Regions from separate parts of the Homo sapiens genome. Here region 1 is linked to region 2. The links come from fine-mapping of genetic effects on gene expression. A gene starts in region 2. The other region holds a variant in brackets. All regions are shown on one strand. Distances are from middle to middle.

Evidence for each region. PIP is the estimated chance that this variant, and not a neighbour inherited with it, causes the effect.
Region 1: its variant is the best candidate, but not a certain one, in a credible set for the expression of ZNF565 in prostate (GTEx, PIP 0.57).

The regions. Positions count from the first base shown.
Region 1 is chr19:35,728,420-35,733,419 of GRCh38, reverse strand. It overlaps KMT2B (lysine methyltransferase 2B), which reads right to left. Exons shown (of 37, transcript NM_014727.3): 20 at 4,531-4,646; 21 at 4,344-4,435; 22 at 4,124-4,261; 23 at 3,295-3,453; 24 at 2,958-3,078; 25 at 2,804-2,882; 26 at 2,553-2,713; 27 at 1,285-1,512; 28 at 1-1,205. Among named protein-coding and RNA genes, the nearest start is that of IGFLR1, 12 kb to the left of the region's middle. The variant C/T (reference allele first, on the strand shown) is at 2,796.
Region 2 is chr19:36,212,255-36,217,770 of GRCh38, reverse strand. It overlaps ZNF565 (zinc finger protein 565), which reads left to right and starts at 3,106. Exons shown (of 5, transcript NM_152477.5): 1 at 3,106-3,149. It overlaps ZNF146 (zinc finger protein 146), which reads right to left and starts at 2,665. Exons shown (of 4, transcript NM_007145.3): 1 at 2,575-2,665. RefSeq lists enhancers at 2,422-2,611, 2,722-3,151.

The DNA.
Region 1 (5,000 bases), 480 kb after region 2:
TGGCGGGGACCGGCCGGAGAAAGTGGACACCCTCTTGACGCGGATGGCCTGGCGGGGCGGGCTGGCTGGCCCACTGCTCAGCACCAGCGTCAGGGGAGGGGGTGGCGGGGGCGGGGCAGGGCGGACCACTCCGACCACGGGCAGCACGCCGAGGAGGGGGCCTGGGGGCAGAGTCCAGGAGGTGGGAGCCGTGGGGGAAATGGTGGGGGGCAAAGGTGGCTGCTTCACTGGGGGTGGGACAGGTTCACCCTCCCCAGCCATCTTCACAAATACTTGCCCCAGCTTGTTGACAAGTATGATTTTGGATGTGGCGGGTTTGGGGGGCTCAGGGGCAGGGCCAAGGCTTAACACCCGGACCCCTGGGGCCCCTGGGAGCCAGGCAAATGTGCGGGTGGGGTCAGCTGGGCTGGCGGTCAGGCCTTGGGAGGGCTGGCTGCCATTAGCCAGGGGAGGCGCCGGGGGGAGTGACTCCTCTCTAGGGCCAGCACCTCCATCCCCAGGACCCCCTAGGTTCTTCAACACAAAATCCACAATTTCCGATGGCAGGTCCTCAGGAGGCCGGGCCCTGTCCCCTGCAGCCCCAAGGACCCCTGCCCGGACTACTCCTGGCCCCGAAGGAGGCGTGCCCTGGCCCCGAGGCTGCTGCACCGCCTCAGCCTCACTGTCAGTGCCGTCGTCCACGCCGTCCAGCTGTTCAATGCGGGGGGCTCCAGGGGTAGCGCTGGGGGCCAGACCAGGGGCGGACACCACAGTCACAGGGAAGTGGATGTAGCGGGAGGTGGGGCTGGACTCCTCCTCGGAGCTGTCCCCCGGGCCCCCGTGGCTGCTCCCCATGGCCCCAGCGGCTACAATCTCTTCCTGGAAGGGCTCAGTCCCCAGCAGGCTGGCCGCGAAGTCCAGGTCAGCAGCACTCAGTCCTGACACCACCTCCATGTCCTCGAAGTCTGGGCCCAGGTCTTCAGGGGGTGGTGGAGATGGGGCCGGGCCAGGGGGAGCCAGCTCCCCTGAGGTAGGTGTGAGGGCTGTGACGACTGAGGTAGGAGGGGGCACCCTGAGCTGAGGGGAGGTTTTTAGAGGAGGGGAGGCCCACCGTGATGGAGGCGGCCTGGGAGCCAAAGGGCTGGGACGACGGGAACGTCTGGGGGGAGCTGGGAAGTCCGGGTCTCCCACTGTGGGGATGTGGTGGGTCAGTGAAGATGGACTTCCTGTGGGGGGAGGGTTGGTGTTACCAGCAGCTCCCACCTCCGCGGCTCCACCCCCAACCCCCACATGCCCGGTGCTCACCAGGGGAGGGCAGGGGGCCAAAGGAGACACCCCCCAAGGGCCTCCGGGATGGCGAGTAGTTGGGCACTTTGATTCGAGCCCCCGAAAAAGAACGGGGGGCTGGAGGAGGGGCGCTGCCTGAATCTGGCCGCAGTGGAGGGTCCAGGTTCTGAATGGGCGAGTGGCGCTCAGGAGCTCCAGGGACAAGAACATCTGTGTCCAGTGGGGGGTCCTCACCACCTGGGGGCTCTGAAGAGGCGAGAAATGGCATTGGGGTGGTAGGGGCTCTGTGTCAAAGCCTGCCCACATGCTCTCATCCTGAGCCACTATGCCTCCCAGGTCCCCGACCCTGACCCAGTCACAACAGGCCCCAGTTTCCAGTGACCACCCAGGCTAAACCCACCGTGGAGTTGGCAAAACCTGCACACACCTGGGCCAGGGGGCCTTCAGGGCCTCTCCCCACTCGCTCCTTGCCATCTCCTCTCTGCCTCTGCTGCAGGCTTTGCACGCCATGGGGAACTGCCCTCCCTCCAGCACGGCCAGTCCTACCACTTTCTTACTTGCCTGGTGCATCCAAGCCACATCAGACGCTCCCGCCCGCCCCGGCCCGGAGGCTCTCCATTACCTGGCTCCACCCAACCTCTGCAAACTGATCTCCCTCCTCCACCCAAAACTCCCTGGTTTCCAGACGGGATGGGTGTACCCTCCTCCTCTGTCCACTTCTTGTCATGCTCCAACCTGGAATAAAGCCCTTCCTACCATCCAAATCTCTTCTGCCTCCTGCTCTGCCCACAATAACCTCTCCCCCATCTCCAAGCCCATTCTTTGCCCTGTGCCATCCAGCTCTCAGCCACATCCCACAGCCAGTGTGGCTGTAAGGGGGCCGGTTTGGGAGCTGAGCAGATGCAGTTCCAATTCCAGCTTCCCTAGCATGTTACTGTGTTCAGCCACTGTCCCCTTCAAGGTGTAGTATGGCGACACTGGAGAGCGCTCCATGAGCACAGTGCCCCAAGTTAGGGAGCTGTAAGCACTCTACTCCCTGCAGTCGTCCAAAAGCCAGTACCCCACCTCAAGTAGGCAGCGTGCCGCTCTCCCCACCTCACTTCCCATGAAAAGCCGGGCACAGCCCCTGGCACACAAGGCATGGCAGTAAGCGAGCTGCCGTTACATTACAGCAACTGAAGCAAAAGCAAGCCTCCTGGACTTTCCAAAAGGGAGCGGGGAACAGAGATCTGTAGGTTTGTTTAGGGAGAGCGGTATTCAGGAAGAAGACAGAGCCAAAGCCACACCTGAGGAAGGGGCGGGGCTGTGCACAATGGTCTGGTTCTCCTCTGCAGCCTCCAGGTGAGCTGGCTCTTCCCTCGGCCCCCATGGCCGATACTCCAGAATTCGGCACCGATACCAGCAGCGCCTCCGAGCATCCACTGTGCTCCAGTACAGACGGGAGCACCTGGCATGTGGGATAAGACGGTTAGGATGCTTGGGAAATGGGATCCAGCTATGGAGTCCCCTGGCCCCATGGATCACCCCGA[C/T]CGCTCACTGGTAGCCAATGGGGAAGAGCCGTCCCTCGCAGTCCGAGAGATCAGACAGAGTACCCAGGGAGTCAATGCGGATGGAACCTGTGGTGCAAAGCGGAGGTCAGGAGAGGCAGGCAGGACAGGGTAGGAGGACAGGGCGGAGAGCAGGCAGCTTACCAATGAGCACGTTGATGGCATCGGGTTCAAGCCCCGTCAAGAACTTCCGCTTGAAGTTGATGCCCTCGAAGTCCACATAGACTCGGCGGAGAACATCAAAACCATCGGGGTTCACAATTTCCTGGAAGAGGGGGTGGCAAAGTGAGGTGGCTGCATTGGTGGGGGAGGTGGATGCCAGGGAAGTCTGAACAGTCAGGGGCTTGGCCTAAAGGCCTCTGGGAAAACAGATGAGGAGACACTGAGAGGCAGTAGGGCCAGGCCTGGGGGCCACGGGGGTCCCTAAGTGAACAGGAAGAGAGGTGGGGAAGGAACCGTGTACCCCACAGTTCTGGCCCACCTTGCCATCCAGGAGATCAGTGTGTTTCTGGCAGAAGACTTTCTTGTCATCCTGGAAGATGCAGTAGCTGGCCCGGGCACACATGAAGTGGAAGTTGCTGAGGCAGGAGGACAGGCAGCAGCCCACCGTGGCGCCAGGCTTCAGGCAGAGCTCGCAGCGCTGCGTAGGGGAGGGCAGCTCAGGGGAGAAGCCAGGGCTGGGGCTGGGCGCCAGGCACCACTGTCACTGAGTCTGCATGGGTCCCTGTCTAGCCTGGCACGGCAAAGGCTCTCCCTAGGCGCAGCCTCTCCCCAGCCGCATCCAGGCCCAGGTGCACACCAAACTCTCTCTGGTTCTTTGAAGCAAGAATGACAATACTTGCTGATAGCATTAGTGTGATTATCTTTGTCACAGTTTTCAGGCGGAGGTTGTGTTATTTTCATCCTCACAGATACCCCCGCAGTGGGAATCTCTACCACCCCAATGCCCGAGAGTGCCTGAGGTCTCTCTGTACCTGGCCCAGGCACCACTGTGAGGAGTGGGGGAATTCTAACCTCACGGGGATGTAGTGAGAGCTCAACGCCACCCAGCATGGAAAGCGTGCAGCCCAGGTTCAATCAATGGGCACTCTTCTCACTTTTAGACTCCCACACTTCAGGCCCAGATTACAGCCAGAGGGCCCACATAGGAAAAAGCTGCCATCAGCACCAACGTCCCAGGGCAACCAAGAGACCTCAGCCTGGCAGTGAAAGGATGCCAGGTAGGGAATGTGAAGTAAGAGCTGTTTGCACCGGAGGAGGCCTCCCCAAGAGCCAGAGAGCTGTCCACCTCTCTGCGCCCGCGCCCTCACCATCTGCCTCCCTCGGGCCACAGCAGCATGCACATTCTTGAGGGAGCCGTCGTTCTCCTCGAAGACTTCCGCCGACCAGATGGCACAGTTGACGTGTGTCCACTCGTTCTGCCCGATGTACAAGAGCCGCCCCGCCTCCTGGGGCAGAAGAGGAGTGGCATGATGTGGGGAGGCCAGGGAACAGGCCCCACAACCTGGTGCGTCACAGAGCAGCCCTCACCTTGGAGTCTGCATCCCCGTATTTGAGGCAGAGTGCACACTGACGGGGGTCCTCCAGGTGTGAGAAGGCAGCCGGATCCTTGCCCTGGAATGCTGAAGAGGAAATGTGAAGGGAGGTCTAAGAATCAGGACCCGGAGCCAGGCCACCAACACAGGGCCCTGGCTTCTGGACCCCCACTTCCCAGTACCTGCTGAGGGATCCCCTGGAGGCTGCCCTGATTCTGGGGTCTCTGGTTCCTGCTGTCTCCACTGCGCATAGACATGATCCAGGGATGGGGGCAACACCGCATTGGGAAGGACTCCGCTGTGGACAGGCAGGGTTAGCAGCTGATGTGCCCAACAAGGGCAGCTGAACGGGGGCCCATCCACAAACCAGCCTGAACTCGCCATGACACCCGCTACTCCCTCTCTATGTGGAATTTCTCTCAGTCCACCAAATAAGCCAGGCCCTCTTGTGCCAGCTTGGACATACGAAATGCTGCTCCTCATGCCTGCAATACTCTTCCTCCCCAGCTCTGCTCCAATGCCATCTCTTTCAGGAAGCCTTCCCTGACACCTCGGCTCCAGCAGGTACCCCTCCGGGCCCCCACCGCCCCCTGGTATTCTCCATCACTGCCCTGACCATCTGGGTCTTCAGTGCCTGCCCGGCTCCACAATG
Region 2 (5,516 bases):
TGGGATTAACAGGCATGTGCCGCCACGCCTGGCTAATTTTGTATTTTTAGTAGAGACGGGGTTTCTCCATGTTGGTCACGCTGGTCTCAAACTCCTGACCTCAGGTGATCCGCCTGCGTTGGCCTCCCAAAGTGCTGGGATTATAAATACATATTCTTATTACCCCTTTTCTTATTCCAAATGCATCGTGTATCATACTCTACATTCTGCACCTTGCTTTCTCTCAGTTAACAATACATTTTGAAGTTATTTCTGTCTCAGTATATAAAGAGCTTCCTCCTCATTCTTTTGTACAGCTATGTATTATTTTGTTGTATCGATGTACACCAATCTCCCACTGATGGGCATGAACTGTTTTTCTTTTCTTTCTTCTCTCTCTCTCCTTTCTTTCTTTCTTAAGACAGGGTCGGCCAGGCACCGTGGTTCATGCCTGTAATCCTAGCACTTTGGGAAGCCGAGGCGGGCCGATCACTTGAGGTCAAGAGTTCAAGACCAGCCTGGCCAACATGGTAAAACCCTGTCTCTACTAAAAATACAAAAAAAGTAGCCGGGTGTGGTGGCAGGCAACTAATCCCAGCTACTCGGGAGGCTGAGCCAAGAGAATCGCTTGAACCTGGGGGGCAGAGGTTGCAGGGAGCAGAGATTGGGCCACTGCACTCTAGACTGGGCAAGAGAGAGAGACTCCATCTCAAAAAAAAAAAAAAAAAAAAAAAAAGACAGGGACTGGCTGTCCACCAAGCTGGAATGCTGTCGCCAGGATCTCTGCTCACTGCAGCCTTGACCTCCTAGGCTCAAGTGATCCTCCCACCTCAGCCTCCCAAGCAGCTAGGACTACGGGAGATCTCACTATGTCGCCCAAGCTGGTCTCTAACTCCTGGACTCTAGCCATCCTCCTGCCTTGGCTCACAGGTGTGAGCCACCAAGCCCGGCCTGAGGCTTTATATTTAAAATGTGTTGGGTCCCCATCTCCCCACACCTCAACGCCTTTTCTTTCTCAGTCTGTACTGGCTCTTGCAGCTTGTCTCTTTCCATAGTAAGTCTAGGATCAGTTCCCCTAGTTCCAAAAGAGAAAAGCCTGTCCATACTTTTATTAGGATCACATTATTACTATTATTGAGACGGAATCTCGCTCTTGTCCAGGCTGGAGTGCAGTGGCGAGATCTGGGCTCACTGCAACCTCCGCCTCCCAGGTTCAAGCGATTTTCCTGCCTCAGCCTCCGCGGTAGCTCAGATTACAGGCGCCCGCCACCACGCCCGGCTAATTTTTGTATTTTTTTATTTTATTTTTTTTTAGTAGAGACAGGGTTTCACCATGTTGGCCAGGCTCCTCTCGAACTCCTGATCTCAGGTAATCCACCCATCTCGGCCTCCCAAAGTGCTAGGATTACAGGCATGAGCCACCGCACCCGACCAAGATCACAGTAAATTAATACATTCACTTAAGTTTGCGCACACTTCTTAATGTCACATGGTATATTTATTTGTTCACATTTGTTATGCCCCTTAGTAGTATTTTAAAGTTCTTTCCTAATAGTTCTGAACCTTTAAGTTTCTTCCACAATACTTTATCTTTTTACTGCTATTGTAAATATTAGTTTTCTTCAACTATGTATTCTAACTGATATTTGTAAATTAGAAGGCTATTTATTTATAGATATTAACTTGGTACCCAATTACTTTATTTAACTTTTTGTAATTTAAAACTATGTCAATGACGACAGCGGGGGCGGGGTGATTTCCTTAGAAAACGCATCTTTGGAGACGTCAGTAGCATTCTCCATTACTTCACAAAATCCATACAACCTGAGAACGCCTCGACTCATTAAGGAATTAAGACACCTAGGATTTAGTCCAGACTCATAGATAAACACTGCAACAATTAAGCTTTCTTCAAAAAATGAGGATAACTGTGCCTAACCTAAAACCGTTGACTCCCTCATCCTGGGCGCCGTTATATGGGATTGCTTCTCAAAGCGTACAATGCTGTTTAGTCTAGGGCTTTGCTTAACAGCCCTATTTAAGTACCCCAAAGATGGGGATTTGAATAGTCTGAAGTAGGCACCCCGAAACTAAAGTTCCTTCGAAACACTCTCGTTTAATTAAAAAAAAAAGTCACGGTGATTTGCATGCCACTCCAATTAAAAAGAAATGCTTTTATATAAAAACTCGTTTTAAAATTATTCACCACTTAGCTTTTCCACCCCTTCAATTTTCAAGTAAAAAAGACGCTCCAGGAAGATGGCACCGTTATAATTATCAGCACTTTCGACAAGGGAAGTGCAGCTCAAACGTTATACCTCAATGCTGGTCTCCTACATCTCCCTCTTAGGCACAATCACACACAATCCCGCACCCAGTTTCACATTCACTCAACAATCCCAAACATCAGGTCAAACTTTGAGGACAAACTCGGTCACACTCGCTCAAACCCGCCTCAGAGGCCCCCATCTCCGCCCCGCACGTAGGCCAGAAGCTCTTACACCCACTCCCTGCCCTCGCGCCGCGCCCCTAAAGATCAGGAATCCTCCCCTTTAACCTCCCCGGTCCGACCGACCCGAGACGCCCAGATCCCACCTCCTACTTTCGCGCCACGTGGACCCAGGGGCCGTACTGACCCGCGGACAAAGACCAAAATGTCCACTCGGTGCGCTGCGCTTGCGCACTCGGAGAGCGAGGAAGCACTCCCAGAAGTCTCCGCGACGCGGCCCGCCTCGGTCACCGCGGCCAGGCCCAGGCTGGTACTGAATTACCTTCTATTACCAGCAACGTCGCTTCTCAGGCCTTGGACTACATTTCCCTTGAGGCTTTACTGGTCGACTCTCTGTCTCCTCCCCTCCCCCCGCGAACTTGGCCGCCTCCTTCTGTGACGATGGAGCTCTTGAGGTAAGTAGTCCTTTAGCGTCAGATGACTTCAAGCTTGCTGGAAGGTCTGGAGTGGCGACGCCCTCTCCGAAGACTCGTGGGCGCAAAAATGTCAAAACGAGCCAGGCCCCGACTCAGAGATAAGAGAACGCCATTCTGTCCGTGGCCGATCTAGCTCTGGACTACAATTCCCAGAGCCCACAGCGGCCTGACGTTACGTCGTTCTTGACGTCGTGGCGAGCTAGTTAGCTCCGCAAGGACCCGGACGCGACCAGGGGAGGCAGAAGGTGAGGGGTCTGGGAGTCCTGGGCGGGGCCGGGGCGTGTCCGGAGCCTCGAATCTGTGCGCGCAGGCGGGAGCTGGCTGCGGATGCGCCGTTCTGAATGTGTCTTTGTGGCTGTGTGGCTGGGTGTGGGTGTCTGCAACTGTGCACGTGTAACCGCCTGTCTCCAGGGTGTCTGGTGGTTTTTGTGTAACCATGTGTGATAGAGAGTATCGGGGTGCAGGGTCCTTGTGACCGGGGGTGATACTGCGTGTGTCCCCGTTGTATATGTGGCCTGTTCGCCCTGTTCCTGGGGTGTGAGTACAGTTGTGACTGTGTGACCACTGCGGGTGTGCGGTTGTGATTCATGTCTCCAAGGTGTGTGCGTGGTTTTGGTTGTGTGACACTGTGGCCGTGTGCAATTGCCTGTGCCTGTGACTGTGTGGTGACGCCGCTTGTGTATTCCTGTATCCCTTGGTGTGTGTGTTTGTGTGTATGTGTGTGGTGCTGTGTATGCGGGAGTGGGGTGCCACTGCTTGTGTGGGTTGCTTGTGTGAGTGTGACTGTGTGTATGTCCACAGTGAAAGTTCAGTTGTGACTGGGTGCCGTAAAGTACCAGTGATGGCGTGTGTCCCCTGAGTGGGTGTGTGACTGTGACTATATGAGGCATTTGTGGGTGTTGGTGTGTGGGGCTTGTGACTATACGGGAGTAACTGTATCACAGTGGAGAGTAGATTGTGTGACTGGGTGTGTCTTAGCGGGTGTGTGATTGTGACTGGAAAGATATTGTGACTGGAAAGGTATAGAGGTGTCTGTGATTGTGTCCTGTGTCTCAGGAGTGGATGTAGGGCCGGGTGTGGTGGCTCACATCAGCCCTTTGGGAGGCCGAGGTGGGAGGATCACTTGAGCCCAGGAGTTCGAGACCAGCCTGGCCTGTACAAAAAAAAAAAAAAAAAATTAATGGCTGGCACGGTGGCTCACACCTGTAATCCCAGCACTTTGGGAGGCCGAGGCGGGTGGATCACCTGAGGTCAGGAGTTCTAGACCAGCCTGGCCAACACGATAAAACCCTGTCTCTACTAAAAATACAAAAATTAGCTGGGCGTGGTGGCAGGTGCCTGTAATCCCAGCTGCTCAGGGGGCTGAGGCAGGAGAATCGCTTGAACCCAGGAGGCAGAGGTTGCAGTGAGCCGAGATCGCGCCATCGCACTCCAGCCTGGGGGACAAGAGCGAGACTTCGTCTCAAAAACAAACAAACAAAAAATTAAAAATTATCTGAGTGTGGTGGCCCACACCTGTGGTCCCAGCTACCCGGGAAGCTGAGGTGGGAGGATCTCGAGCTTGAGAGGTCAAGGCTGCAGTGAGCCGTGTTTGAACCACTGCATTCCAGTCTAGGTGACAGAGCGAGACCCTGTCTCAAAAAAATAAAAGAGTGGATGTGTGGTTATGTTTGTGTGACACTGACTGTATGTGCAGCACCAAGTGTGCCAGTGACTCTAGTGCTTGACCCATGCAGAACCTTTGAAGTTAGGACAGATTCTGGCCCTGGACAGGAGTGACCTCAGCCTTCTGAGTGACACTGGATTTAGGCAGATGCCTGGTGTTCTGTGACCACACTTCCCTATATGGTAGGTAAGGAGGATGGTGGTTCAAAAATGACCTGGTTGTTCATGATTCCTTGCTCTTAACCCTTCTCCAAGAAAGGTGCCAAGTTCAAGTACATCAGGTTTTATTCTTATTTCTCTGAAATCCTTCTTGTTTTTCAGGACATGCTTTTCTTTCCTTCTTCTGAAACTTCAGAACCACCCCACCACCACCCTCACCCCTACCAAAGTAACCTGGTCTCCAGTATTTGCCATAGGAGTAATTTACTGCGTGCCTTGGAGATGGACTGAAAGGCCTATATCCTCCCTGCTCCCTGCATACCTAATGTTCTTTTAAATTTTTTTCTTTACTTTTCATTTTGAATTTAAGACTTTAAAATGTAGCAACAATAGAATTCCCATTTGCTCTTTTTTTTTTTTTGAGACGGAGTCCTGCTCTGTCACCCATGCTGGAGTGCAGTGCTGTGATCTCAGCTCACTGCAACCTCCACCTCGCAGGCTCAAGCGATTCTCCTGCGTCAGCCTCCTGAGAAGCTGAGATTACAGACAAATGCCATCGTGCCCAGCTGATTTTTTGTAATTTTAGTAGAGACGGGGGGAGGGGGGTTTCACCATGTTGGCCAGACTGGTCTCGAACTCCTGGCCTCAAGTGATCCTCCTCCCTCAGCATCCCAAAGTGCTGGGTTAGAGATGTGAACCACCATGTCTGGTCTCCATTTTCCTTTTTGTAACTCCTTTGACACGCCTAGCCAATTTTTTGTATTTTTAGTAGAGACAGGGTTTCACCA